4 separate regions of the Homo sapiens genome follow, and regions 1, 3 and 4 are each linked to region 2. The links come from fine-mapping of genetic effects on gene expression. A gene starts in region 2. Each other region holds a variant in brackets. All regions are shown on one strand. Distances are between the middles of the regions.

Evidence for each region.
Region 1: its variant is fine-mapped to the expression of EML2 in whole blood (TOPMed, PIP 0.98).
Region 3: its variant is fine-mapped to the expression of EML2 in whole blood (INTERVAL, PIP above 0.99).
Region 4: its variant is fine-mapped to the expression of EML2 in whole blood (INTERVAL, PIP above 0.99).

The regions. Positions count from the first base shown.
Region 1 is chr19:45,765,979-45,773,978 of GRCh38, forward strand. It overlaps SIX5 (SIX homeobox 5), which reads right to left and starts at 3,274. Exons shown (of 3, transcript NM_175875.5): 1 at 2,064-3,274; 2 at 372-1,177; 3 at 1-133. The coding sequence starts at 2,866. DMPK (DM1 protein kinase) reads right to left here. Exons shown (of 15, transcript NM_004409.5): 10 at 6,663-6,774; 11 at 5,793-5,950; 12 at 5,590-5,687; 13 at 5,372-5,418; 14 at 4,993-5,082; 15 at 3,739-4,662. The coding sequence ends at 4,510. It overlaps DM1-AS (DM1 locus antisense RNA), which reads left to right and starts at 1,818. Exons shown (of 2, transcript NR_147193.1): 1 at 1,818-2,153; 2 at 5,512-5,905. RefSeq lists enhancers at 993-1,628, 1,693-2,252, 3,744-3,823, 3,984-4,093, 4,534-4,613 and 1 more and silencers at 1,994-2,123, 2,574-2,793, 3,154-3,693, 3,545-3,729, 4,254-4,413 and 1 more. The variant C/G (reference allele first, on the strand shown) is at 4,781.
Region 2 is chr19:45,634,435-45,642,434 of GRCh38, forward strand. It overlaps EML2 (EMAP like 2), which reads right to left and starts at 4,963. Exons shown (of 19, transcript NM_012155.4): 1 at 4,923-4,963; 2 at 4,411-4,439; 3 at 4,071-4,200; 4 at 1-37. The coding sequence starts at 4,942. It overlaps MIR330 (microRNA 330), which reads right to left and starts at 4,653; the gene lies at 4,560-4,653. It overlaps EML2-AS1 (EML2 antisense RNA 1), which reads left to right and starts at 7,060. Exons shown (of 2, transcript NR_130729.1): 1 at 7,060-7,332; 2 at 7,791-8,000. RefSeq lists enhancers at 3,789-4,640, 3,877-4,171, 4,641-5,492, 7,467-7,526 and silencers at 3,877-4,171, 4,868-5,147, 5,168-5,257.
Region 3 is chr19:45,934,717-45,942,716 of GRCh38, forward strand. NOVA2 (NOVA alternative splicing regulator 2) reads right to left here. Exons shown (of 4, transcript NM_002516.4): 4 at 1-6,229. The coding sequence ends at 5,147. Among named protein-coding and RNA genes, the nearest start is that of NANOS2, 24 kb to the left of the region's middle. RefSeq lists a cis regulatory region at 5,007-5,106. The variant CAAAA/C (reference allele first, on the strand shown) is at 4,764.
Region 4 is chr19:45,591,409-45,599,408 of GRCh38, forward strand. GPR4 (G protein-coupled receptor 4) reads right to left here. Exons shown (of 2, transcript NM_005282.3): 2 at 1-1,289. The coding sequence starts at 458. Among named protein-coding and RNA genes, the nearest start is that of GPR4, 6.8 kb to the right of the region's middle. RefSeq lists enhancers at 5,968-6,605, 6,606-7,242. The variant TAAATAAAA/T (reference allele first, on the strand shown) is at 3,904.

The DNA of each region.
Region 1 (8,000 bases), 130 kb after region 2:
GGGGCTGGCGGCAGGACCTGGGAGACGAGCATGCTGGTGGGGAAGGTGGCGGTGAGGATGATCTTGCCCTGCTGCAGGGCCACACCCGTCACGATGGGGCTGCCAGACACAGGGTTGGCCAGGAGGAAGTTTCCTGTGGGGAGAGAGGGACCGAGCGCAGGTGAGAGCCAGGAGAGCAGGCCAAGCCAGAGAGAAGTGGAGACTGTGCAGCTGGAGGGCGGGCGGAGGGAGCCTTGTGGTGGGCCTTGGGGCACTGGGACTTGCCAGGGATGAGATGCCCTCCAGGAGCCCAGGGACAGCCCCTCCCTCTCCGAGATGACTGCACCCCTCCCCGGCTCTCACCTAGGCCTGAGGGAGGGAGATGGGGGTACCTGGGGCAGTGGCCGAAGGCAGCTGCAGGGCAGTCACGCCCACCCCGGAGTTGATGAGGTGCACATTGGCAGGGCCTGCTGCAGCTGCCACCTTCACAGGGCTGCCTGGCCCGGCTGCCAACAGCTGCAGGGGCCCCACAGCCTGGGGCAGGGTCACCACCTGTGAGGTGGGTACTACCTGGGGCAGGTTCAATAGTGGGGAGGTGGGGCTCAGGCCCGTGGGATACCCCGGGGGTGGGGAGAGCGGTACCACTTGTGGGGCAGCCACAGCAGGCACTGGCCCCGGGGGCAGAGGAAAGGTGGCAGCCGTCGGGGGGCCAGGCACCACTTGGGCCAGGGGCCCCAGGACCTCCTCTCCAAGGGCTGGTCCCGGAGCAGCCACCTGGGCCCCTTTGGTCTCAGGGGCCTCCGACTGAGCCTCCTCCAGCCGCACCTCCCCTGTCTGAGGGTCCAGGACCAGAGAGGTCTTGGTCTCGCTGGCCCCCTGAGGGCTGGGCTGCGGTGGAGGGGCACCCCCGCCCCCAGTGAGCAGCAGCGGGCCCAGGCTGGAGGCCTCGCCCAGGGCCAGGCCGTTGATGATGACGGGGCCCCCGTTGAGGAGCACTGCTGGGGAGCCGCTGGCTGCCAGGAAGCTCCCGTTCACCAGGATGGAGGAGGAAGCCGGGCAAGGCGCGGGAGGGCCGGTCCCTGCCAGGAATATGGAGCCCTGGGCAGCGGCCTCGGCGGACACTGGGGCCGCCCCTCTCTCCAGGTCCTCAGGACTTCGGCTGGACTCGTCCTCAGTCGTGGGATTCCCATCAGACTCGCTGGCCGGAGAAATGGCTGTCAGCTGGGGTCCCTTAGCCTGTGGGGCCTCCCGCATAGCCAGCCAGCTGCTCCCCCACCTTTCCCTGGCCCAAGTTTCGGTGGATCATTCCAGGGGTTATGACGCCTCTCTGAGACCACTCCAAACTCCAGGGCCTTTTGCAAGCCCTGCGTGGACACCACTGCAGAGAAGCGCTGGGGAGGGAAGAGGCCCTTGCTCTCCCCCACCTCGGCCTCGGGTCCCCAGAGGCTGAGCTCCCAGGTTGCCCTAAAAGTTCCTTGGTTGGGCGGAAAGCGGGCGAGTGGCCTGGAGAGAGGGAGCAGCAGCCGCCAGCCCAGTTCCCGGTGCCCTCCCCGCGGGGCGTCAGAGAAGGGAGAGGCCGGCGCTCAGGGTGGGAGGAGAAGGGTTTGGGTTACAGGGAAACCGGAGCTGGGAAAGGTTCACGTTTCACAACAAAGGCAGAAGACGGACCACGCCGTCCGGGCCCGGAGGGAGTGTGGGGGCGGGTGGGTAAGAGTAACGGTCAGTGAAGAAAGGGGGCTGGGAGGCAGCCCCTACGCGGAGTGGAGTGGCCACAGGCCCTGTCCTTTTTCCTCAGTCCCTCTAGTGCCCCCCGCAGTGTGATTCCCCAACACCGATGGGATTTGGGAAGGAGCTCGGAATGGAGCCGCTGGAAGAGGAGACGCGTGCGGGGAGAGGGCCCGGGCGGGTGCCTGTCCCGTCCACACTTAGTCCCCGCGCCCCGCGGGCGCCTGAGATTGTGAGCTGGTCCCGGGAGATGTCCGAGGACCTCGGCGCGCCGGCCCCAGCAGTGGGCACGGGGGAAGAGGGCTGGTGGACGGGATGTCCCCGGGAGAGCTGGACTTGCGCCGCCCGAGGCCCCTCACCTCTTGCAGGGCGCGCCGCCTCCGGCCCCGGTCCGGTCGCGCTGTCGCCGGTTCTTGAACCAGTTGCTGACCTGCGTGAGCGACAGGCCGGTGAGTGTGGCCAGGCGGCGCTTCTCGTCCGGCGTGGGGTAGCGGTTGCCGCGGTAGCAGGCCTTGAGCGCTGCGCGGGAGCGCTCCTTGAAGCAGTAGACTGTCTCCTCGCCGTCCCAGATGGTCTTGGGCAGCGGGAACTTCTTGCGCAGTCGATACTTGTCCACTGCGCCAAGCGCGCGGCCGCGGGCCCGCTCGGCCTCATGGTAGCGCGCGCGCAGGTAGAGGTCCTGCAGGAAGGCGTGGTGGGCGGCGGGGAAGGGGCGGCTCTCGAGTAGCCGGTAGAGCTCGGCGTACTCGCCCCGCTGGAAGGCCACCAGGGCCCGCGCGCGCAACACCGGGTCGCTGCCACGTAGGCGCTCGGCCGGGGGCAGTGCGCCCAGGAAGCGGCTCAAGCGGCCGGCGTGGCCCGCCTGGAGCAGCGCCTCGCAGACGCACGCCACCTGCTCGGGCGAGAAGCGGAGGCCCGTGGGCGGTTCGGAAGCGGCCTCGGGGGGCGACCCGGGGACGCCCGGGGATCCCGGGCCCTCAGCTCCCGCAGCCGCTGCGCCCGCCCCGGCCCCGGCCGCCGCCGCCGCCTCACCCTCGGCCGCCTGCAAAGTCTGCAAGAGCTGGCGCGCTTCCTCCTCCTCCTCTTCGGTCGCCGCCGCCGCCGCCACCGCCTCCCCCCCAGCCGCCGGCCCCGCGCTCGGCTCCGCAGGCAAGGTAGCCATGTTTTGCAACTTTGGGAAGTTCCTCCCTCCCTCTCTTCCTCCCTCGGGCTTTCCCCAGCCTCCTCCCCCACCTGTCCCCCCTTTTCGCCCCCACTCCCCGCTCTTCTCGATCTTCTTTCTGGCCGACCCTGCGCCCCACGCCGGGAAGGCGAGATCCAGCTCTCCACTCGGGTCTCTGTCCCCTTGTGTGTGTCCGTCCCCCTCCCGTCTGTCTGTGATTCTCCCTTTGTTTTCCCTCCGCCTCTGGCCGCGCTTTCTGCCTCCCCCCAGCGTGTGCTTCTGGCTCAGGGCCTCAGTTTCCCCATCGGGACAACGCAGAAGGTAACGGGCCGTCCAGGAGGACTAAGGGCGCGAAGCCTCCGCCCCGAGACTGAGCTTCTGCACGCCTCCGTCTCCAGGGTCCTCTGCAGGCCCCCACATTCCCCATCTCGGCCTGCGCTCCGCCCCTCGGAATTCCCGGCTCCGCAGGGGGGGCGGGTCTGGCCGGGAGGAGGGGCGGGGAACGGGCTAGAAAGTTTGCAGCAACTTTTCTCGAGCTTGCGTCCCAGGAGCGGATGCGCGTGGCGTGCGCAGGCGCAGTGGAAGGAGGATGGCCGCGCGCGCTGCCAGCCCAGCCCCCTCTTCTCGACGCTCGGTGGCACAGCTGGGCCACAGCTGGGCGGGGGCGGTGCCTCCGGGTGGCCCGCTCGCCCTCCTATTGGCCGGACGCCAAAGCCCCGCCCCGTGGCTTTTCCTCCCCCAACCCTGATTCGGCCGCTTCGCATCCCGCTAGCTCCTCCCAGACCTTCGGCCGCCTCCACACGCCTCCGGATTGGCCCGCTGCGGAGCCTCCGGCCCACAACGCAAACCGCGGACACTGTGGAGTCCAGAGCTTTGGGCAGATGGAGGGCCTTTTATTCGCGAGGGTCGGGGGTGGGGGTCCTAGGTGGGGACAGACAATAAATACCGAGGAATGTCGGGGTCTCAGTGCATCCAAAACGTGGATTGGGGTTGTTGGGGGTCCTGTAGCCTGTCAGCGAGTCGGAGGACGAGGTCAATAAATATCCAAACCGCCGAAGCGGGCGGAGCCGGCTGGGGCTCCGAGAGCAGCGCAAGTGAGGAGGGGGGCGCGGGATCCCCGAAAAAGCGGGTTTGGCAAAAGCAAATTTCCCGAGTAAGCAGGCAGAGATCGCGCCAGACGCTCCCCAGAGCAGGGCGTCATGCACAAGAAAGCTTTGCACTTTGCGAACCAACGATAGGTGGGGGTGCGTGGAGGATGGAACACGGACGGCCCGGCTTGCTGCCTTCCCAGGCCTGCAGTTTGCCCATCCACGTCAGGGCCTCAGCCTGGCCGAAAGAAAGAAATGGTCTGTGATCCCCCCAGCAGCAGCAGCAGCAGCAGCAGCAGCAGCAGCAGCAGCAGCAGCAGCAGCAGCAGCAGCATTCCCGGCTACAAGGACCCTTCGAGCCCCGTTCGCCGGCCGCGGACCCGGCCCCTCCCTCCCCGGCCGCTAGGGGGCGGGCCCGGATCACAGGACTGGAGCTGGGCGGAGACCCACGCTCGGAGCGGTTGTGAACTGGCAGGCGGTGGGCGCGGCTTCTGTGCCGTGCCCCGGGCACTCAGTCTTCCAACGGGGCCCCGGAGTCGAAGACAGTTCTAGGGTTCAGGGAGCGCGGGCGGCTCCTGGGCGGCGCCAGACTGCGGTGAGTTGGCCGGCGTGGGCCACCAACCCAATGCAGCCCAGGGCGGCGGCACGAGACAGAACAACGGCGAACAGGAGCAGGGAAAGCGCCTCCGATAGGCCAGGCCTAGGGACCTGCGGGGAGAGGGCGAGGTCAACACCCGGCATGGGCCTCTGATTGGCTCCTGGGACTCGCCCCGCCTACGCCCATAGGTGGGCCCGCACTCTTCCCTGCGCCCCGCCCCCGCCCCAA[C/G]AGCCTACAGCTGTTGTTAGTCCACTCGCACGCCTCGAATCCCGTCCGAACTCGTCATTGGCTGCTTCCTAGCGGCCTGTGTTGATTGGCTGCCCGAAGATCCGCCCTCCTGCCGTGGGCCCAGCCCCGCAAATGCGCAGCTAAGCGGGTGGCAAGGGGCGGGTGGAGCGCGGGGCGCGACGGCGGAGGGGGGCGTGGGCAGCCGGACGTACCCTGGCAGGGAGCAGCAGGTGGCGGCGGTGCATGGGGCCTGGCCCCACCAGCGGGCACTGGCCCACAGCCACGGCCGGGGGGCCATCTAGCTGGAGAGAGAAGGGACAGGTGACCCGATCGGAGCCCAGCCCAGCCCTCAGCGGTGGGGCGAGAGACAGCGAGGGGAATCGAGGTTGGGGAGGTTATCTAGGGAGATCCCGGAGGGAATCTGGTGAGGCCTGAACGGAGGGAGATCTGGGGCTGAATAAAGGGCTTCTGCCCTCTAAAGTCGCAAAGACGTAGGGTGAGCCCTATATCTGGACGGGGAGACCAGGAGCCAGGGAGGGGATCTGCAGAATGGGCAGCAGGTCTGAGGCAGGGGAAAGAGAGGGGTCTTACATGGGAAGGTGGATCCGTGGCCCGGGGACTGGGGACCCCCGTGACAGCTGGAAGGAGAAGAAAGAGGCATAGGGCGCGTGGAGGGGCGAAGGAGGGCGGTGGCGCGGCGTGCCCCAGCGTGGGTCCCTTCCCTCCTCCAGGTGTCTATACACGCCCCGCGGAGCAGACGGCCCACCTCCTCCCGGTCCTCCGGGGAAGGGGACACATGAGGGACTCACCTGTGGCTCCCTCTGCCTGCAGCAACTCCATCCGCTCCTGCAACTGCCGGACGTGTGCCTCTAGGTCCCGGTTCCGAGCCTCTGCCTCGCGTAGTTGACTGTGGGGAGGTAAGGACGGTGAGTCCGTCCGGGCCGGACGAGAGGGGATGCCAAGGGTTGCCACCGGCCCGCATCCCGGCCCCGGCCCCGGCCCCGATCCCGACCTGGCGAAGTTCTGGTTGTCCGTGCGGATGGCCTCCATCTCCCGGCTCAGGCTCTGCCGGGTGAGCACCTCCTCCTCCAGGGCTTCCTGGAGCTCCCGCAGCGTCACCTCGGCCTCAGCCTCTGCCGCAGGGACAGCCGCTGGAACTGCCACTTCAGCCTGTGTATGGGGACCAGGCTTAAGGCTGCCTGTGGCTCCTGGAAGACTCAGGACTTGGGCACTGGTTCCAGGCTAGGAATCCTTGTTTATCCCCTACTCCTCCGTCCCCTCAACATTTCTGGAATCCCCATAGCTCCTGCAATGATCCAAGCCCCCTCCCTTCCCTACCTCCCTCAGCCCCATCCCTGAGTCTGGTCCTCTAAATCTACACAGGGACCAGAGGGCTGGTGCTCAAACACTAACACAACCTATGTCCCTCTGCTGCTCAAAATCCCTCCAGCTCCCTAATGCCCTCACGACAAAAGGCCTTGCTGGGTTTTGTTTCCTGCTGGCCTCTCCAGCCTTCTCAGGAATGATTCAGCCAAACTACCTTTCAGGAACAAATCAGGATTCCCACCTGCCCAAGGCCTTTGCCCTGGAGGCTCTCGCCTGACCACTTGGCACCTTTCCTTCCATGGCTTGTTTCTCCTTCACCAGCGCTCAGCTCAAAGATCGACTTCTCAGATCCCCAGCAACACACACACCCTTACTTAATGCCCCACTGTAACTACAGAGACCGTCCCATGTCTGAAGTAACCTCGTCTCTCCGTGGTTTCTGTCTGCTTCTGTTCAGGAAGTCCCTAGAGGGCTCTACAGTGCACGCCACCCGGGAAGCCCTCACCTTTTCTCTCCCAATTGTCCCTGACGGACCCCCTCCCCTCCACCAACTTACTGTTTCATCCTGTGGGGACACCGAGGGCTCCAGGCTGGGCGCTTGCACGTGTGGCTCAAGCAGCTGCTCGGCCTCCAGTTCCATGGGTGTGGGGCCTGGGACCTCACTGTCCCTGGGGAGAGGAGGAGGGAGTGGGGAGGGAGACAGAATGCTGATTCTCTGGTGGAGAACCAGAACTTCTGGCCTGTGGGTAGGGGCAGCTGCTTCCAAGACCTCCTGATTTGAGGAAGGGGAGCAGCAGAGCGAAGAGAACAGAGTCCCAGGTAGGCCAATAGCCCCTCCTCTGCTTAGGAAAAGCCCTGCCCCTCTCCTGGCCTTGGGCCCCTGGGAGCTGCTCTTTCTAAACCTTCTGCAGGGACTTGGGGTCCAGACCCCCATGTTCTAGGGTCAGCTCATCTCCTCCCTTGACATGTGACCGCTGCAGACCCCTCTTCTCAGGGCCTCAGGACAGGGAGGCCGACCTGATGGGGAGACTGCTTGGCTCTGGCCACCTCCACAGATGTGGTCCTAAGACTGGGCATGGGACCCCAAGATGGCAACTTGAGGTCAGCACACCCCACTCAGCTGTGGGAAGGGGACAGCTCCTCCCTGGGGTATGAAGTGGCTGTCCCCTCCAACCCAGCAGTCCCTCCTGTGGGAACACGGCTCAGGACCTAGCTATCCTGGACATGCGCCTGGGTTCTAATAGAGGATGGGTTCAATCCTGACCCACCGTTCAGGCCCCGCAGCGGTTCAGAATCAAGCTGGAGTTCATTAATGATAAGGTATAGTATGTGTAATGTTGTCCAGTAATAAAAGCTGACTAGAAAACCAACTGTTCTCTTAGACAAAGTAGCATGAGGAAGGGGAAAAAAACAAACCAAAAAAACACCTGTTCTCCACTATTTAAACATGTGTCAGTACACGTGTGAGCCAGGGACCACTGCCATCTGGTGAGCTCACGAGATATCAACTTCCTTTTCCTTATCTGTATTTTCTAATTTACTTGTGATAAGCAATGCATTATTTGTGTAATTAATACTTTTGTTGAGACCAGGTCTCACTTTGTTGCCTAGGCTGGAATCTATCATGGCTCACTGAAGCCTCAAACTCCAGGCTCAAGTGATTCTCCTACTTCAGACTCCTGAGTAGCTAGGACTGCAGGCACAGACCACCATGCCTGGCACGATTTTTTCAATTTTTTGTAGAGACAGGGTCTCATTATGTTGCTCAGGCTGGTCTTGAACTCCTGGGCTGAAGCAATCCGTCCACTTCAGCCTCCCAAAGTGCTGGGATTCCAAGCGTGAGCCACCATGCCCAGCCTGTAAATTAGTACTTTTTTTTTTTTTTTTTTGAGAT
Region 2 (8,000 bases):
AAGGTTGGCCCGGCAGTCTCGGCCACGGTAGCCATAGCTGGAGCCACCCAGGGGCTGGTTAAGGAATGTGTTTTGTTGTTGTTGTTTGTTTGTTTTGTTTTTATTTATTTATTTATTTTTAATTTTTTTATTTATTTATTTTTTTGAGATGGAGTCTCACTCTGTCGCCCAGGCTGGAGTGCAGTGGCGTGATCTCAGCTCACTGCAAGCTCCGCCTCCTGGGTTCATGCCATTCTCCTGCCTCAGCCTCCTGAGTAGCTGGGACTACAGGCGCCCGCCACCATGCCCGGCTTATTTTTTGTATTTTTAGTAGAGACGGGGTATCACCATGTTAGCCAGGATGGTCTCGATCTCCTGACCTTGTGATCCACCCGCCTCGCCCTCCCAAAGTGCTGGGAGCCACGGCACCCAGCCTATTTATTTTTTCTTTTTTTTGAGACGCAGTCTCGCTCTGTCTCCAGGCAGCAGTGCAGTGGTGCAATCTCAGCTCACTGCAACCTCCGACTCCCTGGTTCAAACGATTCCCCTGCCTCAGCCTCCTGAGTATCTGGGATTACAGACACACGCCACCACACCCAGCTAATTTTTGTATTTTTAATAGAGATGGGATTTCACCATGTTGGCCAGGATGGTCTCAATCTCCTGACCTCATGATCCGCCCGCCTCAGCCTCCCAAAGTGCTGGGATTACAGGCGTGAGCCACCACGCGCGGCCTGTTTTGTTTTTTTAAGACAGAGTCTGTCACCCAGGCTGGAGTGCAGTGGCATGATCCCAGCTCACTGCAACCTCCGCCTCCTGGGTTCAAGCCATTTTCCTGTCTCAGCCTCCCAAGTAGCTGGGACTACAGGCAGATGCCATCATGCCAGGCTAATTTTTGTATTTTTAGTAGAGATGGGGTTTCACCATATTGGTCAGGGTGGTCTCCAACTCCTGACCTCAGGTGATCCACCCACCTTGGTCTCCCAAAGTGCTGGGATTAGAGGTTTGAGCCGCTGGCGCCCAGCCGAGGAATGTATTTTGCATCACACACACTGGCTGAGGACCAGACTCAACAAGGTCATTGGAATGAGGTTTTTCTGTTTCCACTCTCACCCCTGTAGTGGGCTGATGGTCCCCTCCCACTCCAAAAAAAAATGAATGTCTGTTTCCTTTTTTTTTTTTTTTTTTTTTTTTTTGAGATGGAGTTTCGCTCTTGTTGCCCAGGCTGGAGTGCAATGGTGTGATCTCAGCTCACGGCAACCTCCACCTCCCGGGTTCAAGGGATTCTTCTGCCTCAGCCTCCTGAGTAGCTGGGATTATAGGCATGCGCCACCATGCCTGGCTAATTTTGTATTTTTAGTAGAGAAAGGGTTTCTCCATGTTGGTCACGCTGGTCTTGAACTCCCAACCTCAGGTGATCTGCCCACCTCGGCCTCCCAAAGTGCTGGGATTATAGGCATGAGCCACCGCGCCCGGGCTATGTCTGTTTCTTAATCCCCACAACTTGCAAATGTGACCTTACAAGGAAAATGGGTCTTTGCAGATATAATTATAGATCTCAAGATGAGATCATCCTGGATTATCAGAGTAGCCCCTAAATCCGATCACAAGTGTCCTTATAAATGACAGAAGAGGCAGCCTCAATCTCCTGGGCTTAAGTGATCCTCCTGCCTCCGCTTCCCAAATAGCTGAGACTACAGGCATGCACCACCATGCCCAGCAAATTTTTTGTATATTTTTGGTAAAGATGCAGTCTCGCCATGCTGCCCAGGCTGGTCTCAAATTCCTGGGCTAAAGCAGTCCACTTGTCTTGGCCTCCTAAAGTGCTGGGATTACAGGCATGAGCCAATGCACCCAGCCTGCCTGGCTAATTAAAAAGAAATTTTCTGTAGAGATGGGATCTCGCTTTGTTGCCCAAGCTGATAGTTATCTGGTTTATTTGTTAACTGCTCATATTCCCCAATAAGACTGTGAGTTCCATGGTGGCTGAGATTGGGCTGTTTTTTTTGTTTGTTTGTTTTGTTTTTTTCATTTCTGTATCTCCTCCTCCAGGAAGCCCTCCATGACTCCAGGCTGGGTCAGCCCTGTCCCTGTGGATTCCCCATCCCAGTCTTGCACACTCTGGGTTGTCACTCTCAATGAGTCTGTTCCCATGCTAGACTGTATGCCCCAGGAGGGCAGGCAGATGCTGTCATGGTCAGCACTGGGTCCCCAGCCCTATGTCTCAGATGTTCAGAAAATATCTTGAATGGGCCAAGCACGGTGGCTCACGCCTGTAATCTCAGCACTTTGGGAGGCCGAGGCAGGTGGATCACTTGAGGTCAGGAGTCCAAGACCAGCCTGGCCAACATGGCGAAACCCTGTCTCTACTAAAAAACACACAAAAAAATTAGCCAGGCATGGTGGCCCATGCCACCCAGCTACTGTAGTGGCCGAGGCAGAAGAATGGCTTGAACCCAGGAGGTGGAGGTTGCAGTGAGCCAAGATCGTGCCACTGCACTCTAGCCTGGGTGTCTCAAAAACAAGAAAATATCTGAATGATTGTCAATATACATATATCCTGACCCCATGAAACTGCTCTGACCTGCAGTCACTGCAAAGGGGAGCAATCTGAGGTCCTCACTTTTGCAGTCTCAGCCACCTCTCATCAGATGCTTATCAAGCCCTACTGGCAGGACATTTGGGACAGATTCCAGGGGATATTTCCAGCTGCCTCGAGAAGGCTCTGGGCACCCAGAAGGCCAGGCCATTTCACCAACCACCCTGGCTCCTCCAAAGAGGAAACCAAGGCCCAGAGAGAAGCAGACAAGGACCGGGTTCCTGGGGTGTGGACTCCAAGCTCAATAGGATTTTAGGAAAAAGTTTGGGTCCCAGAATCAGGATTGTTGTCTCCTACCTATAACCTCAGTTTCCTTATCTGGAAAGGAGGTATAATAATTTCCAAACTGTAGGCCTCAGAGCTCTTGGAGGCCACTAGTTGTAAAAAAATAAATTCATACCTGGAATAACTTACAACAGTGTCTGTCAGATAGTAAGTGCTTGAGTTATTATTTTGGATTTTTTTTTTTTTTTTTTTTTTTTTGAGAAAGGAGTCTCGCTCTGTCGCCCAGGCTGGAGTGCAATAGCACAATCATGGCTCACTGCAACCTCGACCTCCCAGGCTCAAGTGATGCTCCCACCTCAGCCTCCAGAGTAGCTGGGAACCACAGGAGCATGCCACCATGGCTGGCTATTTTTTTTTTCTTTTTCTTTTCTTTTTTTTTTTTTTTTTTTTTTTTTTGAGACGGAGTTTCACTCTTGTGGCCCAGGCCGGAAAGCAGTGGGGCAATCTCGGCTCACTGCAGCCTCTGCCTCCTGGGTTCAAGCGATTCTCCTGTCTCAGTCTCCCGAGTAGCTAGGTTTACAGGCACATGCCACCACACTCGGCTAATTTTTGTATTTTTAGTAGAGACAGGATTTCATCATATTGGTCAGGCTGGTCTCAAACTCCTGACCTCAGGTGATCTGCCCACCTCGGCCTCCCAAAGTGCTCAGATTACAGGCATGAGCCACCGCGCCCGGCCTGCTATTTTATTTCCTGTAAAGACGAGGTCTTGCTATGTTGCTCAGGCTGGTTTCAAACTCCTGGGTTCAAGTGATCCACCCACCTCGGCCTCCCAATGTGCTGAGTTAGTGTTTTATCAGTCCCTGTGCATGGGGCACATACTATGAGCTCAGTACCTTTACACATTATTTCACAGGTCTATGGACCTGAGATCATAAAATTCATTTTTCAGAGTCAAGACGACTTTTCCAGGGTCACACGGCCAGGTACGGGCTGGACTGGGGTTTGAACCCATCTCTGTCAGACTCCAGAGCCCGGGCTTCCAGCCATTCCCAACTCTTTTTGCTCAAATGCACCAATCCCACTCTGGCCACATAGCCCTTGAACGTGCTGTGCTTGTTTTGTGTGTTGCCCAGGCAGGTCTCAAACTCTTGGCCTCAAACGATCCTCCCAAAGTGCTGAGATTACAGGCCTGAGCTGCCTTGACCGCCTTTCTATTTCCTCCTGGGGGGATGGGAGCACCAAGGAGATTCCAGCAAAAGGATACACCCACTCCAGCTTGAGCCGGCAAGAAGGCAGCTCCGAGCGTGTGTCCAGGCTGTAGGTGGGTGCCAGCTCGTCTGGGATCATCATGGGCACAGGGCGGCCCCTCAGGAACATTTTCACGGAGCCATCCTCTGCCAGGACACCCCCAGAGGTCAGGCACTGACACCAGCCCCATCCCTATTCCCTCTCCTCTTCCAGCTTTATTTATTTATTTTTTTAAAGGCAGGGAAACTGAGGCCAGAGAGGCAAAGACCCAGTAGCCAAGACTCCTGACCTCTGGCTCCAGCCTGTCACCCCAACAAGCAAGCTTCCACCGAGCCCTTCCCCATCTCCCCACTCACCCACACTGAAGATAACTTCTTTGGTTTTGCTGTCAGGAAAGGACAAAGAAAAAAAAAGGGTCTTAGTATTCAGTTCAGAAAAGGGGAGAAACCATTCCTCCACCCCCACCGCTCCCCGGAGGTCTCCGATGAAAACGGGGCCGAGTAAGGGGCAGAGCGCTGCCTCTCTGCAGGCCGTGTGCTTTGCTCGGTTGATCTTGCAGAGCCTAAGACACAGGCCCAGAGAGGCAGTGATCGCCAAAGATCACACAGCACGAAGTGGCAGGGACGCGATCCTGGAAGAAGGGAGTCACCAAGGACCCTTCCCTCCTAATCAGCAAGGTGCTCCCCAGCGCCCCCCACCCGCAGTTCCCCCAGCACACCAAACGTCAAGCAGAGGGAGAAACGGGGAGAGTTTAAGGGAAGGGGCGTGTCCCCACGCCGGTCTGGGTCCCAGGGGTTGGGTGAAACCTGAGATCTAAGCCCCGGGAGCGCGGAGAGGAGATGGGGGGTGGTCTGCGAAAGGGTCTCACCCAGCTCCAAAGCTACTCATGGCGGCGGGTGGCGGAGCTTCGGGGCCGGGGGTGGAGCCGGGACCGGCTCTGCCGCTTCCGGCCCTGGGAGGCGCCCGGGCCGCCGCGCCCCTGCCCCGCCCTCCACAGCCACCCCTGGAGCCGGAGGGTCCCACCGGGTCACACATCCCGGGCTGTGGACTCCCGATCCCAGGTTCTTTCGGGGTGGGTGGGGGAGAGTGGTTGAGAACATGGACTCGGGAGCGCGCCTGCTTGAGTTAAAACCCCAGTTCTGCTAATTCCTAGCAGTGTACACAGGTCGTCCAACCTCTGCCTCGGTTTCCTCATTTAAAAAATGGGGATAATAAGAGTACCCGGCCGGGCGCGGTGGCTCATGCCTGTAATCCCAGCACTTTGGGAGGCCGAGGCGGGCAGATCACCTGAGGTCAGGAGTTCAAGACCAGCCTGGCCAACGTGGTGAAACCCCGTCTCTACTAAAAATACAAAACTTAGCCTGGCGTGGTGGCTGGCGCCTGTAATCCCAGCTACTTGGGAGGCTGAGGCAGGAAAATCATTCGAACTCGGGAGGCAGAGGTTACAGTGAGCTGAGATTGTGTCATTGCACTCCAGCCTGGGCAACGAGAACAAGACTCCGTCTCAAAATAAATAAATAAATAAGAGTACTCACACCTCCCGGGGGTAGTTGCGAGGGTGAAATTGGTTAATTATTGGGAAGTGCCTGGAGTATACACAACGCTGTATTTGTGTTTGCTATGTTTGAGCAGAGTTGAAATGTGCAGCTTTTGACCTTGGTCTTGCCCTTGCGTGGCCTCCTAGCGCTGACCACGCCCACTGCACCATAACTCCAGCCTTAGGGTGATTTTTGTTTTGTTTTGTTTTTGATACAGGGTGTGGCTCTGTCGACCAAACTGGAGTGCAATGGCGTGATCATGGCTCACTGAAACCTCGAATTTCCTAGGCTTAAGTGAGCCTCCTGCCGCAGCCTCCCAAGTAGCTGGGTCTACAAGCGAAGGCCAGCACGCCCGGCTATTTTCTTTCTCTCTCTTTTTTTTTTTGTTTTTTGTTTTTTGTTTTTTGTTTGTTTGTTTAACGGAGTCTTGCTCTGTCAGCAGGCTGGAGTGCAGTGGCGCGATCTCAGCTCACTGCAACCTCCGCCTCCCGGGTTGAAGTGATTCTCCTGCCTCAGCCTCCCGAGTAGCTGGGACTACAGGCACGCGCCACCACGCCCATTTTTGTATTATTAATAGACAGGGGGTTTCACCATGTTGGCCAGGATGGTCTCGATCTCTTGACCTTGTGATCCACCCGCCTAGGCCTCCCGAAGTGCTGGGATTACAGGCGTGAGCCACCGCGCCAGGCCTAATTTATTTTCATTTTTAGTAAAGACGAGGGCTCGCTATTTTGCCCAGCCTGGTCTCGAACTCCTGAGCTCAAGCGATGATTCCCGCCTCCGCCTCCCAAACTGCTAGAATTATATAGCCTTAGTTTTTGACTCTGTCCAGATCTTCAGTATGGCCCCGCCTCTGGAGTTGACCACGCCTGTCATTCTGAGCCTCCCTTCTAACCCTGTCCCTGAGTTGACTCAGTTGCTTGAGAATTGACTGCTACCTCCCGCCAACGCTCCTTCTCCGGCCCGCCAGGCATTCTGATTACGTCCATTTTCACGTATTCCTTATGTGAATACCTTCGAGGCCTCCAAGTTGGCTGCACCTCTTGGCATTTGACCACGCCCCTACGGCCCCGCCCAACCTTTAAGCCACGCCCTTTTCAACCTGGCAGTGCCCCCCGATTTTGATGTCAAAGCTTCTGGAATCTGGAATGCCTCCACCTGGTCTCAGCCTCTGTTACTCCGTACCCCAGATTTTAATTTCGCCCAGGCGAACACTGTGGCTGCACCCTTAAATTCCTCAGACTCCCTCTTTCCTTGTAGAAACTCTGTGGCTGCTGCCTTGACTTCATCCCTGAAACTCAACGGGGCCTCTCCTGTACCTTAATAACCACGCCCATAAGCCAAGCTCCTCCCTGACTTCCTCACCCAGTAGACCTGACCGTCCAGCTTCTAAAAACTCTGGCCACGCCCCTCAATATTGACTCCGCCCTCCCAGACCTTCCACTGTTACCGTGCCACCTCAAGATTGGTCCCTCCAAGGCTCTGGCACCGTCCCCGCTTTTGAACTAGCTGGCCCCACTCTAGGTTACGACCTCGTGGCCTGGGGCATGACTACATTTCTCGACCATTTCCTCCCTATCTCTTTCTGCGGCTTGACGCCGCCCCAGTCCTTACCCTTCCTTTTTGGCGCTACAGTTGCTGCTGGAGGATGTGGTCCGGCTGCGGGGGTCCTCACGGCGCACCGAGGCGAGGCGCTCTGGTGACAAGTAGCGGCGGACACTGCTAAAAGAGAGCACACAGGTGGGGGCAGAGCCTTCTAGGCCAGCAGGCGAGTGCCGTGAGCAAGCGAGATTCTCCCTGCACCCTCTGCTGCTGGAGCTCAGGCAAACAAACCACCTCTGTCTCCCACGAGGTCTTGGAAGAGGCTGGGGGTCCCGGCCTTGTGCCTTACCTGCGCCCGGAGGTCGCCTCCTTCTTGGGAGAGGATGGGGACGTGGCATAGCCACCCACGCGCCGCGGGGGTCCCGAGCCATTAAGGGGCGTCCTGGTGGGAAGGCCTTTCAAGAGCTGACACACTGGAGGGATGGGGTTAGGGGACAGAAGAGGGTGAGTATAAGGACCAGGCCCCGGTCCTCCCCATCCCACCCCTCCAGTCTAACGGGGATACCCGAGGCAGTGGTGCCTAAGCGCGGAGGCGCCCGGCCCTTGGGGGTGCCCCGCGCGCGTAGCGCCGCTCCCTGTTCTTCGCATGCCCGCAGGCGACGCAGAGCATCCGCCAGCGCCGCCTTTAGGACCGCCAGCTCGTCTTCCTGTAACTGCAGCCGCTGCTCCAGCGCCGACACGCGGTCGTCCACTTCCATACCGCTCGTGCCCGACAAATTGTCATCTGGAAGACGGGGGAGTGCCGGCTGCAGGGCCACCCAGGAGCTCCAGTGCCCAAGGGGTCCCTCCCGCCTTCCTGGGTCTAA
Region 3 (8,000 bases), 300 kb after region 2:
GGGGGTCAGAGTGAGCGCTCCATTTGAGGGAGGCCACGCCCCTGGACCCGCCTTTTAAAGGGACAAAGCCAAATAGCATAGATATTTATAGAGGATGTCAATCCCCAGGGTGGGGCAGACCCTAGGGGTGAGGGATGGGGGTGGGGCATGGGATGGGGTGCGGGTGGGGAGGCATGGGTGGTGGGAGGAGATGGAGGAAAGGTAGCAACTGCCCCTAGCCTCCCCCCTCCCCCCTGCCGGACACACAGTTTTCCGTGGGATGAACACAGAAAGGGTTAATCAAAAAGAGTTCGATGAGCGAGTCTGACGGTCGAGTGGGGCGGGCTGGAGCAATGAGGCCGCAGGTCCCGGTGGCCGGTGGTGATGGAGTCACTTAGAAGATGAGAGGTTGGTGGTTTTGGGGGGAGAGGTGGGGTAGGGAAAGGGGTGGGGGAGGGGGGGTTAGGCAGTCCCCCCCCAGTTATCTCTGGGAGACAAGTGTCCTGGACTGGTTGAGAAGGGATTAAAAACCAGCAGCCTTCACCACCATGACCCCACAGATTCTCTTCCCATTTCCCTCCCTGCCACCCAGCAATCTCCAATGCAACTTGCAGGGGACACTAAGACAGACCATACACACCAGCAGTGGCGCCCGGAGACAAGCCCTCTCCAACCACGGCGTGGAGACAGCTGACCACAGTGCAAACGGATCGCGATAGCAGGGCTGGGTGTTATCACCCCAGTAAACCAGTGTCCCTGGCTCGCCTGTGCCCCAGCTTGGGTATCGCGATCCCGTTCTCCCCATCGTGACATCCAGTCCAGGCTTTCAGGACAGCGAGCCCGGTTTCCAGGCAGGTGCTTGTCGAAGGCCTGGCTGGCTGTACCGACAGGCGGGCACTCAGTCAGCAGCCTGGACGCCCCAACTGCCATCCTCATCGCCACTCTTGTTAATACTTTTGCCACTGCACAGTCTATCACAGCCTCTAATCCCGGTCCTGAAACAGCAATCATCCATTCAGGGGGACTCCTCTCATTTTCCAAACAATTGGCCACCAATCAAAACAAAGTAAGAAGGAGGATGTGGGATGGAGGAACAGGGAGGAGAAACAGAATGAGGGGATATTGAAGGATTTGGTGGTCCAGAGGGGAGAGGAAATACACCTCGGAGATAAGCGACACCCTGGTGTTCCAAGTAGAGGTCCCCAACCATCTATAGGTCGGCTTTTATCAACATCCACTTGGGATACCCATAATTCCCAACTACAAGTCCAGGGTAGGCGTTAGGGCAGATAGAAACGGCAAAATCATTGTCTTCTGATCACCACCCCTACTAATTATTGCAGTGAAGCCTCCTTGCCCATGTAGAGGTGGCTGGGACAGGGCAGAAGAAGGTGGCTGGGCAGGTTGGCTCAGAGCCCCCTGAGATGGGGGATGAAGGAGGTTAATTTGGCACATCGAACCCCCTCTTCTCATAGGAGCTTTGAGGTCCTTCTCTTGAATCCAGTTGGTACCGCCCCTTGGGCTAGCAGAGGAGGAGTTGAGCTTGTCTCCTCCTCCCCAGTTTCCATAGATTTGCCAGGAAGTTGGCAAGTGGGATTCTCCTTGGCTGGTGGAATTTGGGGGGACCCAAAAGGATAGGGGTAAGTTGAAAAGGAGAGCTTTTTTCTGTCTTTTTTTTTTTTTCTTACAAAGATTCTAAGAAAAACTCAGGGTGGGAGGGCTGTGGAAGGGGGACCCAATTTAGCTCCATGTCCACACTTTTGCAATGCCTCTTAGGGACCTCCTCAAAGAGAAATGGTCCCATTTCCTCCCCTCTATCCAAGGTCCTCTCCCCCCAGAGCGGCTCAGTTCCAAGGAAGTTTGGCACTTTTTTTTTTTTTTAAATGGGGAAATTGGGGAGAGAGAGTTGAGACATTTGAGGAAAGGAGGAAGACAGACAAAGACTAAGATAGAGACAGGACAGAAAACAATGGGAACCACACGGAGGAAAAAAAAATAGAAAGTCATAGGGAGCCAGACAAAGAAAGGGAGGAAGACACTTGGAGAAGGTATGGGAAGCTAGAGGGCAAATGAGAAGGAATAGGGAGATAATCCAATGCAGCAAACACTTATTAAGCACCTACTGGGTGCTGAAGAGAAGGGTGCAAGGAGGCCACTCAGAGACTCTGAGATCGGATTGGCTAATAGGGAGACGGGGAAAAAAAAAGAGATGATGGGTTTTTCAATAATCCTCATCCCTGACCCCACATCTGTGTCCCCTCTGGACAAACTGCAGCACAAAAGATTGAGGTCAGATTGCAGAAGGGACTTTCAAGAGATGGCAAAGATGGTGGAGTGAGTTTCCCAAGGTAAAATGGGGAAAGGTGTGGCTCTCTGCTCACCAACATGGTGAGTGAACTAGCTCACTGAGCTAGCAAAGTATACCTTTCAGATCACCCTGGCTGGCTGGGTAGGGGGTCCCCAAGAAATATGAATAGGGAGGGGTTGTTACACAGACACCCCAAGCAAACACTTTTCAGGAGGCCCAGCCTCCGGAGATGTGTCTGTGTGAGAGGAGTCCTGGACCCGGCTGATTGGGACCCAGACTCCAGTGAATGAGTTTGTAGAAAGCGGCTGCCAAGCGGAGGATGCAAATGATATGCAAATGAGTTCATTCAGATCCCACCTCCCCAGTCCCAGACCTTACTTCACTCTCCCTGGCTCCTTCCCTTCCTCATAGGGTCCTGGGGGGCTGTAGGGGGATATTCCAGCTAGATACTGTAATACTCGCGTGCGGGTAGAGATACTGTGAAATACTGTAAGGTCTTTTGAGAGGTGGAGGGGAGCAATGGCCCACAGAGCCGCCCCCACCTCTAACCCCAAGAGCCCCCAACGGTAGTAGAAGATATGTACAAAGTTACATCAAGAATTGTTTTGGCACTCAGATCTCCATCTGGGTTCAGTCTGGAGATTAGGGGTGGGGCAACAACAATGGGAAGTGGGGGATAGGGGAGGGGAAGTGGGGCCTGCCTCCCACCCTGGAGATGACAAGGGCATGGAAAAAGTCACCCCAGTGCCCAAGTTACAGCCTCCCATCGGGTGGAAGGGCTGGGGTGGGAAATTCAGTGCAAGGTACCTCGAAGGCTATTGCTTTCTAGGGATTTTCACATTTTGATTTGGGGGTGGCTCTCTAGCAAGGGAGAGGGATCTCCTAGGCTTTAGGGGCAGGAATTGTCTCTGTGGCTTTTCTTCCCTCCTTTTTTAGGAGAGAGACAAGGAGGCTGGATTTCCCCCAAAGTCATAGAGAAGAAAAGGGTTTGGAAGACCTAGGAGGCGGACAAATGGGGGAGAGGGTGGGCATGGGGCGCCCCTCCCCCAGAGATGCTGATGATGGAACCAGGGCACTGGGCGCCCTGCTTTGGGTTGGAGAAAGTGGAGGTGGTCTCCAAGGAAGAGAGGGAGATGGGTGGGGGTAGAGGGAGGTCTCAGCTATCCTAGTCTACATGGTTGTCAGGCCCTGAAATCTCAGTCTGCCAACAGGTCCTTAGAGCTGACCACAGCCACAGCACTCAGGGAGCCACTCCTAAACCAACTCTCAAGGCCGCCTGGCTTGTCAGACTCCATCAGAACATTCTAGTTCTCCAGAGCCCCTGGTGAGCACACCAAAACATTCTGATCCATCAGACATCACCGAAGTATGCCAGCTTGCTGGAAGCCACCAAACCAATCTAACCTATCAGACCACACGAAGCATTCTGGCCCAAGGGACCCTACTATGGCTCACTGAACTCTACACCTGGCCATACTGGCCTGACAGAGCCACCACACACTTGGCTCACCCGATTCAATGAAACAAAGCCACGCAGACACAGGCATGCACACAAAAGGCAGGGGTGGGAAGGGAGGTCTTTAACAGTAGTTTGCACTAGGTCCATCTCCCACCCCTCCCTCCAGGGCGAGTTCGCAGACTTGACGTGTTTGAATGGAGATGACCCTGACAATATTGGTTTTTTTCCGTTAGAGTCCTCCAGATTGGATCCAAGTCCCGTGCCTTATTCTCTTCCTAGGAAGACCCCCAGGCCAACACCCACCAAAGAAGGGTGTGGAGGGAGAAGGCAGGTCAGAGACTGGTCACTGTCCAATACAGGAAGTACATGCTTCAGCCTAATGACATCACAGGACGTGACCTCTAGGCATCACCGGAAGTACACCTTCCCATGATATCACCAAAGTGACCTTCAAGGAAGAACTCATTGAGACATCACAGGAAGTACCTGCTCCCTTATGTTCACAGGAAGTAACCTCTGAGGAACTGCTTCCTGTGACATCATAAGGGGTGCCCAGAAGCACCCCAGAAAGTACTCAGTGACATCACAACAGAGACCCTCATTGCCATTACTCTAAGCCATCAGAGATACCACACCAAGTTGATCCAGCCTCTTGCAAGTCTTGCCCACAGGACTGGCCCAATCCCAGAGCTGGCATCCTTCCCAGCAGCACTGTCCCTGCCCCCCCATACAACCTGACAACAAAAGAGTGAACATTCCCACCTAGGAGGGACAGCTCCAGTGGGAGGAGAGTAGCTGAGAAGATCTGGGAACTCTGGGGTCCTTGCTCCAAATGCCCCATTTCAGCTCAGACGCCTCTGCTACCTCTACTCCCATGGCTTCCCTCAGATCTAGAACTGAAAGCAGAGAGGTGGGGTGTTGTGTTTTGGGAAGGCCCCTCATTCTGGGTGACCCAGAGGCTCCCTCCCCTCCTCCCATATGGAAACAAAAACTTATAAAGGGGGAAAAAATCCTTAC[CAAAA/C]AAAAAAAAAAAAAAAAAAAGGAGGGAAAGAAAGAGAAAATAACGCTTTGTTTTCTATTAAAATCAACAAAATGCAATATATACAGATATCACACAGACCTGGGCCCTGGGACAGGAAGGGTCAGGCCCAGCCAAGCACAGGGAGGGAGGAAGGAGGGGTCAGTTCCGGGCTGGGGAGGGGGCTTCTGAGCCCCCTTCCCAACCGTCACTCAATCCTGCCTATGACTACCAGAAGGGGAGGGTGCAGTCGGGCCTACCCCAGCCCCATCCCAAGAGGAGCAGGACTACACCAAGCTGAGGTCAGGAGTTGGGGGGGAGGAGGAGAGGGAAGAGGAGGAGATGGGAGGAGAGAAAAGGGTGGGAGCACACACCACAGGCCTCATCCCACTTTCTGGGGGTTTGAGGCCCTCACTCCCTGCTCGTAGGTGACCCGCTGACTGATGAGGTATTGAGCGGCTTGCGTGGCCGCGGGGCTGCCCGTGATGGTGACCCGCCGGTTCCGCGTGCCTGGCAGGAACTCGCCCTTCTTGGAGATCTGGATGCGAGCGCCCGTCAGCTCCTGGTACTCCACCAACGTCTTGCCCCCCTTCCCCAGGATGGCTCCCACCAGGTTCTCAGGCACCGCAATCTCCACCAGCTCCTTGGCACTCTCAGCCGCCAGCTTCTCCGCCGTCAGGAAGCCCCCGGCCGCCCCGGCCGCGGCTGCAGCGGCCACCAGCGGGCCGCCCCCTCCGCCCGCCCCGCCGCCCGCCCCGGCCCCGAGGTAGCCGTTGGCGGCTGCGGCCAACGCAAAGGACCCCAGGGCTCCGGGAGGCGGGGGCGGCGGCGGGGCGGCCCCTCCGGCTGGCCCGGCCCCGGCCTCGCCCGCGTAGGATGCCAGGAGGTTGGCGGCGGCGGCGGCTGCTGGGTTGGCCCCGGCGGCCACGGCGGCCAGGACGCCGGAAGCTGCGGCCGAGTTGAGGCCCAGGCCCAGGGAGTTGGTGTTGTAGCCGTAACTTGCCAGCGTGTTAAGCGCCGTGCTGATGGCCAGCAGGTCGGTGCCTGAGAAGGCGGGCAGCGCGGCGGGAAAGGCCCCCACGCCAGCCAGCCCGGCGGGGCCCAGCAGGCCGGAGGCGGCGGCGGCCGACGCTGCGGCCGCGGCTGGCAGCACATCCGCGGGGCTGGCGTACGGAGAGCCGGTGGGGTTGGAGTTGGCCACGGGGCCTGCCACGTTGGCGTAGCTGATGTTGAGGCAGCTGCTGCTCTGGGGGTCTTCTTGTACCTTCTGCACGATGGCGCTCACGGCCTTGTGCACCTGCTCGGGCTCGCCGCTGACCGTCACCACGCGCTCCTGCAGGTTGATGCCCTCCGGCTTCTGGGACAGCTGCACCCATGCTCCTGACTGTTCCATCACGGCTTTCACCGTGGCGCCTCCCTTGCCGATGATCAGGCCCGCCGTGCTGTTGGGGACGATCAGCTTGGCCTGCGTGGGGAGCAAAAGGGAGGGTCTTTAATTTTATTTTTTTAAAAAATTAAATTAAATTAGGCTGGGCACGGTGGCTGTCGCCTGTAATCCCAGCACTTTGGGGGGCTGAGGCAGGCAGATTACTTGAGGTCAGGAGTTCCAGACTAGCCTGGCCAACATGGTGAAACTCCGTCTCTAGTAAAAATCCAAAAATTAGCCAGCTGTGTGTTGGCACATGCCTGTAATCCCAGCTACTCAGGAGGCTGAGGCAGGAGAATCGCTTGAACCCAGGAGAGGGAGGATGCAGTGAGCTGAGCTCGTGCCAAATTGCACTCCAGCCTGAGTGACAGAGGGAGACCCTGTCTCAAAATAAAATAAAATAATATATATATATATATATATAATTTTGTCTATCTATATTAGTAGAGATGGGGCCTTGCGATGTTGCCCAGGCTGGTCTTGAACTCTTGGCCTCAAGGGATCTCCTGCCTTAGCCTCCTAAAGTGTTGGAATTACAGATTTGAGCCACCAAACTGGCGAAGGGAGGGTCTTTACGGTGGCTGGAGACTGAGACGCCCCAGGTCATTCCCTACCCCTCCTCTCCAGCATCCAAAATCAGGCCCAGCATGGCCTTTTGATATGCACCAGTATGGTCCAACTGGTTGTTAAAAATATTGAAATATTTCAGGTCAGGTGCAATGGCTCAGGCCTGTAATCCCAGCACTTTGACAGGCTGAGGTGGGAGGATAACTTGAGCCCAGGAGTTTGAGACCAGCCTGGGCAACATAGCGAGATCTTGCCTCTAACATTAAAATTTTTTTTAAAAAAATTGAAATATATCCACAATGGTTGGTTAATGAATAGCCAGTATTTGAGGTCCCCTCAGTAGCCCCTCAACCACCCTGTCCCATGTACCTGGGACTCTTAGTACTTCCTCTGCGTCCAGCATCTAAAAGCTTAATGGCTAATCCAATGGGGCCCTCCAGGATCTCACTCCAAGCTTGCACAATGGCCCACCCATGCCTTCTAGTGTTACGTACTCTGACTTCCAGCCCTGGAAAAGCCTTCATTAAGCCTTACTTTACAGATGAGCCTCTTGAGGCCCAAGAGGTGAAAGGACTTGTCCTAAGGTTCCCCAGTTAGTGACGGAGCTGAAATCTAGGCTCTTGGGTTCCTGATCCATTGTGCTCCCCTAGACATGGTCTTCTCGTTGAACTCTCTGTTGTTATGGGCTGACACTGTGTCCCCTTCAAATTCATATGTTGAAGGCGTAACTTCCAGTACTTTAGAATTTGACTATATTTGGAGAGAGGGTCTTTAAAGAGATAATTAAGGTAAAATGGGGTCATTAGGGCGGGCCCTAATTTACTGACTGGTGTCCTTATAAGCAGAGGAGATTAGGACACAGATGCACACAGAGGGAAGACTGTGTGAAGACACAGGGAGAAGAAGGTCTAGGAGAGAGGCCTCAGAAGAAACCAACCCTGCTGACACCTTGATCTTGGACTTCTGGCCTCCAGAATCATGAGATATAAATACCTGTTGTTTAGACCACCCAGTCTCTGGCACTTTGTTATGGCAGCCCTAGCAGACTAATCTAGTTGTCCTGTCTGTAAAATGAAGATAACATGAAGGCTTTTGTCTGAGAAGGCAGACGTAAGTGGATGTCTTGGATGTCACACAATGGATCGGGAACCCAAGAATCTAGATTTCAATCTCCTTCTAATTCCTGGGACGGGAACTCTCCAGGATGAAGAAGTTGGTCATTTGAATCTGGTGACCTCTCCTT
Region 4 (8,000 bases), 43 kb before region 2:
AGGGGCGCCGAGTTGGCGCCCAGCTCCGTGGCCCAGACCACGGAGCTCACGGCCACGGCGGTCTTGACGCGGCGCAGGCGGGCGAAGCGGAGTGGGTGGGCCACAGCCAGGTAGCGGTCCACCGAGATGCAGCACAGGAAGGCGATGCTGATGTAGATATTGGTGTAGAAGATGAACCCAAAGAGCTTGCAGGACCCGGGGCCGTGGATCCAGTTGTCGTGGTGCAGGAAGTAGTCCACCCACAGCGGCAGCGTGCAGATGTACAGCAGGTCGGCGATGCTGAGGTTCATCAGGTAGACGCCCAGCTCGTTGCGCTGTTGCACCTGGCGGTAGGCCGCCCACAGAGCCAGGCAGTTGGTGGGCAGCCCCACGCCGATGACAAAGATGTAGAGGGATGGCGGAAAGAGGTGGTCCACGCGCGAGTCCACGTGGCAGCCCTCCCACGTGTGGTTGCCCATGGTGGGCACTTCGGCTTCTGGGGCGCTTCCCCTGGCCCACGGGGGCTGTGGGGCCACAGGGAGCGGGAGGCCATGGGGCCCCCTGAGCCCCTTCCTTGGAGGCTCAGGGGAACATGGTGGGATGTGGTCTACAGGGAAGAGATGAGGTTGGGTAGGCTGGGCTGGGCTGGGAAGGGCAGAGCTTGAGAGGGAAAAGTTGGAGGAGGGATGGAATTATGACAGGAGGGAAGTCTGGAGGATGGTGAGATTAATAAAGAGGTTTTTCAAGGAGGTTATGTATGGAGTCAGTGTGTCAACGAGGGAGTATGGGGGTGACACAAAAATTGGTCTCCGGGAGTGTTTATGGAGGAGACGAAAGCATCGCTGGGCAATGGTGAGAAGGAGATGGTTTGCAGGGCAATTAGGAAGTATGTGTAGCCATATTGAAGTAATAATGGCGGGGGAATGTTCTAGAAGACACAAGAAATACATGAGAAAGTGTTGAGATAGGACACAGCGCAGTTAGGGAGTGTTGGAAAGTTCAGGCAATGTGGGTGGGAGTGCTGGCATTTCCTAGGACCCCAGAAAGCAACAGAGATAAGTAAGGTCACCAGTAAGGAGAAGGTTCTGGAAAAGGAGGTGTCTGGCACAGGGTGGACAAAGATAAAAGGCTCGGTCTGTGGACGGCAGGAAGGAGTCTTAGGAAACAGGAAGGAGGTGAGTAAGGTCTAGATCAGAGGTAAGTTTGGGGACGGAAGGGAAATTTCAATGGGGGCAGGGGAGGGACTCCAGACTGGTCCTGGTGGGGGCTGAGGGATTGGGATGAAGTCAGTTCACCGCTGACTGCAGTGCCTGTTGGGAGAGAGGACAGCAGTGAGGGAGTCATGGACACTCCAACCTTCTTCTCCCCACACTCCTCACCATAATTGCTGTGAACTGCAGAGACTGGACACCCCAACAATGCCTACTTCAGCCCCATCCTAAGCAACCACTCTCTGAAAACACAGATTTGAGGTGTCAGGCATATTTTCCCCTGACAGATATTAGAATAAAGACCCAACTCAGGCCGGGTGCAGTGGCTCATGCCTGTAATCTCAACACTTTGGGAGGCCGAGGTGGGAGGTTCGCTTGAGCCTAGGAGTTCAAGACCAGCCTGGGCAATGCAGTGAGACCCAGTCTCTACAAAAAATAAAAATAAAAATATTAGCCAGGTGTGGTGGTACATACCTGTAGTCACAGCTACTGGGGAGGCTGAGGTAGGAGGATCACTTGATCCCAGGGGATTCAGGCTGTAGTGAGCTATAATCACACCACGGCACTCCAGCTTGGGCAACAGAGTGAGACCCTGTCTCAAAAAAAAAAAAAAAAAAAAAGGTAGGGTGTGGTGGCTCGCACCTGTAATCCCAGAACTTTGGGAGGCCGAGGCAGGCAGATCACGAGGTCAGGAGTTCAAGAACAGCCTGGCCAACATGGTGAAACCCCATCTCTACTAAAAATACAAAAATTAGCTGGATGTGGTGGCACGTGCCTGTAATCCCAGCTACACAGGAGGCTGAGGCAGGAGAATTGCTTGAAACCAAAAGGCGGAGGTTGCAGTGAGCTGAGATCGCACCACTGCACTCCAGCCTGGGCAAAAGAGTAAAACTCTGTCTCAAAAAAAAAAGAAGAAAAGAAAAAAAAGAAAAAAAAAAGGAAAGAAAGAAAGAGAAAAAGGGAAAAAAATGACCCAACTCAGATTTTAGCATTTTCCTGCAGAATTCCTGTAAAACTGGCACAGGTATCATATCATGCTTCAGGAAATGCCAGACTAGTCTAACTCTATCATGTCACAGACAGGGAGAAGGGGCCCAGAGAGGCTGAGTCACCTCCCTAAGGATGCACAGCATGGCAGCAATAGGGCCAGGGCTGGGGCCAGCCTCCCACTCCTTACCCAAGAATCCCATTCTTGTCAACAAGGATAATAACAGCAAACGTTAATTGAGCCCTACTACATAGCAGATCCCATTCCAGGCATTTTTATGCATATTATTTCTTTTTATTTATTTATTTTTTGAGACAGGGTCTTGCTCTTTTGTCCAGACTAGAATGCAGTAGCACGATCACAGCTCACAGCAGCCTCAACCTCCTGGGCTTCCAGTGATCCTCCTGCCTCAGCCTCCCAAGTAGCTGGGAACACAGGCATGCACCACCATGCCTGGCTTAAAAAAAAAAAAAAAAAATATATATATATATATATATATATATATATAAAATAGATGCAGGTCTTCCTGTGTTGCCCAGGCTGGTCTCTTGAACTCCTGAGCTCAAGAGATCCTTCCCTGTAATCGCAGCACTTTGGGAGGCTGAGGCGGGCGGATCATGAGGTCAAGAGATCAAAACCATCCTGGCCAAAATGGTGAAACCCTGTCTCTACTAAAAATACAAAAATTAGCTGGGCATGGTGGCGCACACCTGTAGTCCCAGCTACTCAGGAGGCTGAGGCAGGATAATCGCTTGAACCTGGGAGGCGAAGGTTGCAGTGAGCTGAGATCACGCCATTGCACTCCAGCGGGGGTGACAGAGCCAGACTCCGTCTCAAAAAAAAAAAAAAAAAAAAAGAGATCCTCCCACCTTGGCCTCCCAAAATGCTAGGATTATAGGAGTGAGCCACCATGCCCGGCCAATTTATGGATATTACTTCTTTGAAATTTTCAAGACTCCTATGAGGAAAGTAGTTGTTCTTTCTCTTTGACAAACTGAGGCACAGAGCTGTTCCAAGACCTGTCCAAGGTCCTGATGTCTAGAGTGCAGCCATCTCTGCTCTCAGTCCTCATCTCCAGCCTGTGCTTCAGTTTCCACCCCAGAATAACTGGACAGGCCAGGCACAGTGGCTCATGCCTGTAATCCCAGCACTTTGGGAGGCCAAGGCGGGAGGATCGCCTGAGGTCAGGAGTTCAAGATCAGCCTGGCCAACATGGTGAAACCCTGTCTCTACTAAAAATACAAAAATTAGCTGGGCGTGGTGGCACATACCTGTAATCCCAGCTACTCGGGATGCTGAGGCGAGAGGATTGCTTGAGCCCAGGAGGCAGAGGTTGCAGTGAGCTGAGATAGCATCACTGCACTCCAGCCTGGGAGACAAGAGAGGAACTCCATCTCAAAAAAAAGAAGTCCAGGCACGGTGGCTCACGCCTGTAATCCCAGCACTTTGGGAGGCCAAGGCGGGAGGATCACCTGAGGTCGGGAGTTCGAGACCAGCCTGACCAACATGGAGAAGCCCTGTCTCTACTAAAAATACAAAATAAGCTAGGTGTGGCGGCACATGCCTGTAATCCCAGCTACTTGGGAGGCTGAGGTGGGAGAATTGCTTGAACCCGGGAGGCAGAGGTTGCAGTGAGCTGAGATGGTGCCATTGCACTACAGCCTGGGCAACAAGAGCGAACTCCATCTCTAAATAAATAAATAAATAAATAAATAAATAAATAAA[TAAATAAAA/T]AATAACTGGACAGAAAAGGGCCCTGGGCTGCCAGTGGGGACTGGGAACCAAAGCTGCAGAGGAGTAAGGGAAAGGGGAGAGCCAGGAGCTGCTGGGAACAGTCAAGGTCAAGATCAAGATCAGGGAGCATGGGGAAGCCCTGGGGTTAGCGCCAGCAGTCTCCTCCCTCAGGGACCACTCTCTTCACTGTCTCTGCCCTTTCCCCCGCAATTTTCCTGAGTGAGAACCTTGAGCCTGTCACCCACTTTGTTCTGGGAAGATCTGCATACACAGGGCAAAGGATATTCATGGACCAAGCCCCTGACTATCATCAACCCCGCAGAGAAGCAGAGCCAAGTCCAGAGTCACAGGCAGCTTCAGGAGCCATTCCATCCAGGGGTCTTTTGGTTTAGTTCTTTTGGACGTGAAACCTGGCTTTTTTTTTTTTTCCCCCAACAAGATCTTAACCAGAAACCAATCTAAAACAGTGAAAAGGGTGAGCTGCTAGCTGCTCTGGTGAAACAAGGTGGGGGTGGAGAGGCCACCTCTGAAGAATCCCCAGGATGCACTTTTAAAACATGTTAAAAATGGAGTTTAAGGTGGAGTCTATTGACAAATGAGGAAACCAATCCCCAGAGAGGGGACGGAAGGAGGTCCATGGGAGCCTCCCAGATGCCAGAGCATCTTTCCATGGGAAAGTCCTCTGGGCTCCACCTCCCCAGTGCTTCCTGAATCTGTGTGCGTCTCTCTCAAACGCCTGCCACTGTCCACTCTGCGTCAGCATCAGCGTCATCACTCGCTGGGATCATTGCAGTAGCATCACCATTGCTTTTCTGGGCTACTCTGGCTTCCTTCAAATCACTTCCCATATGGCAGCCAGAAAGATCTTTCTTTTCTTTTCTTCTTTTTTTTTTTTTTTTTGAGATGGAGAGTTTCACTCTTGTCACCTAGGCTGGAGTGCAATGTCCCAATCTTGGCTCACCACAACCTCTACCTCCCGGGTTCAAGTGATTCTCCTGCCTCTTCCTCTGGAGTAGCTGGGATTACAGGCATGCGTCACCACGCTCAGCTAATTTTGTATTTTTAGTAGAGACAGGGTTTCTCCATGTTGGTGAGGCTGGTCTCGAACTCCTGACCTCAGGTGATCCACCCACCTTGGCCTCCCAAAGTGCTGGGATTACAGGCGTGAGCCACCGCGCCCGGGCAAGATCTTTCTATCATGAAAATCAGCTCTTTCTTTTCTTCTTTTCTTTTCTTTCTTTCTTTCTTTTTTTTGAGACAGGGTCTCACTCTGTCATGCAGTAGTGCAATCTTGACTCACTGCAGTCTTGACCTCATGGGCTCAAGCCATCCTCCCACCTCAGCCTCGTAAGTGGCTGGGACTACAGGTGTGTGCCACCACACCTGGCTAATCGTTCTATTTTTTGTGGAGATGGGGTTTCCCCATGTTGCCCAGGCCGGTCTCCAACTCCTGGGCTCAAAAGATCTTCCTGCCTTGGCCTCCCAAAGTGCTGGGATTACAGGCATGAGCCACCACATGCAGCCTAGTTCTTGTTACTTCCCTGCTTGAAACCCTCCAATGGCTTCTGAATGGACTTGCGGTAAAATCCAGACTCCTCATCCGGAGTCACAAGGTTCTGTCTGACCTGCTGGGGCAGCCTAGCCAATCTCACTCACCTCTCCTTCCTGCCTCAGCAGTCTCAAGGCCAGTGAGTGACCTTCTTTCCAGCCTCAAACCTTTGCACACTTACCATACTCTCAGTCTGGAATGCTCTTTTTTTTTTTTGGAGACAGAATCTTACTCTGTCGCCCAGGCTGGAGTGCAGTGGCACGATCTCGGCTCACTGAAACCTCCGCCACCTGGGTTCAAGTGAGTCTCCTGCCTTGGCTTCCTGAGTAGTTGGGATTACAGGTGTGCACCACCATGCCCAGCTAATTTTTGTATTTTTAGTAGAGATGGGGTTTTACCATGTTGGCCAGGTTGGTCTCGAACTCCTGTTCTCCAGTGATCCACCCACCTTGGCCTCTCAAAGTGCTGGGATTACAGATGTGAGCCACTGCTCTTCCTTCAGATAGTCTGAGTAGCTCCGTTCCCTCCTTCACTTCCTCGGGAGTCCCTCTCCATTCAGTCCCCGACTCTCCCCTGCCCCAGGACCCTCTCCTCACATCACCCTGTTTTGTTTGTGTCTGTCTGCCTAGAATAGGTTGTCCAGGAGGGCAGAGACTTTGTGTGCCTTGTTGACTGCTGTATCCCCAGCATCCAGGACAGGCCCAGCATACAGTAGGTGCTCAATAAATTACCAAGGTCATGGTCAGGGAGCACAGAGCCATTTGCCAATGGCAAAAACCATTCCAGAAGCTTTGCAGAGGCCAGAGGCATGGAGTAAAAACATACTCTCTGCCCATGAGGCTGCCCCACCCCACCCCAGGCTCAAACAAGGGCATGGGGAGGAGGGGGAAGGGAGGGAGAGGAGTCCATTCCCAGGGGAAGAGGTGGTCAGGGGAGAGCTGGAAAGGGCAAGATCTATCCGCTTCTTAATTGACTTTGAAAGGTCAGGGCTGAGTCGTGCTCAGTAAGTCCTGCCCCCTGTGGGGTCCTCAGCGGCAGAGCTGCCTCCCCCACCCCAGACTCTTGGGCAGAAGCTTGTGGGTCCTGTGGAGATGGGATGGGTGGGGGCGTACTCCAGGCTGGAACAGTGTGATCCAGTCCCTCCCTTCCACTTGAAACCTCCCACCCAGACCAAGTCACTCAAAATAACCTCCCTCCCCTCTCCTCTGCCCTCTCTCTCCCCATCTCTCTGCCCCTAGTCTCTCCCTTCCTCCTGTGACATTTAGAGAATTAGGTCTCCAGGAGCCTCAGTTTCTCCCTTCTGTAAAAGGGGGCACAGGCTTTATAGTCATCACATCACAGACCGGAACGTCCTTGCTAGAATGCGATATCAGCTCCGTAACATGCAGTATTTGAACGATTATTATTATTCCACGGGGACTAGGGGGCTGAGACAAGAAATAAACCGGTTCTTCATGGCAGGAGACACCCACCGAGGGCTAGAAGTCCCCTTTGCCCCACTTTCTATCGACCCCCAGGGCTCTGCTGACCTAACTCGGGTACCCGGGCAGGAGACACTTCCGGCAGCCAGAGGAGGAAATACACTTCCCATTGCTAATTTCCTCAAGGGGGAACCGGTCCAGCTCTCACCCCTCCTCCCTCCCACCCCTCCTCCCCAACCTGCTGGCATCTTGCGGATGCTGGACATGGGGGGGAGGGGTGCCCAGACAGCCCTCTCTTCTTCCCCACGTGAGATCTGCCCAACGTGGAAACCCCAAAAGTCAGCATGGAACGTCAGACTCTTAGAACGCCACAGTGCAGCCGACGTATGTGTGGCAGCTGGGAGTGTGAGGCTATTTCTGACCCCTTCCTGGTACAGATGGGGAAACCGAGGCCCGCAGCAGCAAGGCAGTTGTCTAAGTCACTTGATGTCTCAAGACTGGGCAAACCTCCTGTCGCTGTTAACTAAACAGCTTCCCTTCCCCTGAGGTTTTTCTCTTCACTCTCTGAACTTCTGTAATTTTTCTCAAGTCTTTCTGAGCGTCTCTGGCCCCTCTGAGAACCTACTAGAAGATACGACCTTCTCCCCACAAAGAAAGCAAGCGACCTTCCATCACCTGATCCCCATAACCCCGTTCCCCTTCCAGGACCCTCTCTGGTTGGGATCTAAGTTCTGCCCCTTAGGCTCTGTTGAGGGGGTAAACCCCCAAATCTCACATCCACAAGAAGCTCCCCCTGTCTGTCCCACAGGCCCCCACTTCTTGGGTCCCTGCTGGCCCCTTCCAGAGAGTCGGGGGGAAGAGAAATATACCCAAGGATGGAGAGATGGTGGGGGGACAGGAAAGACTAGGAAGACCTGGCCCCCCCAACTTTAGCAGCCTCGGCTGCCGCATCCTGCCAGCCACCCCAAAATCCAGCAAAGCTGAAAAACTTGGAGGATTTTGAGGACAAGAGGGAGAAGTGCTACAGCCCCCCGCATCCCCCAGCACCCCTGGGCTCACTCACCAGCCTTGTCCCCGATGCCACCAGGCTATCTCACCTCCCCCTTTTCCTCCTCTGT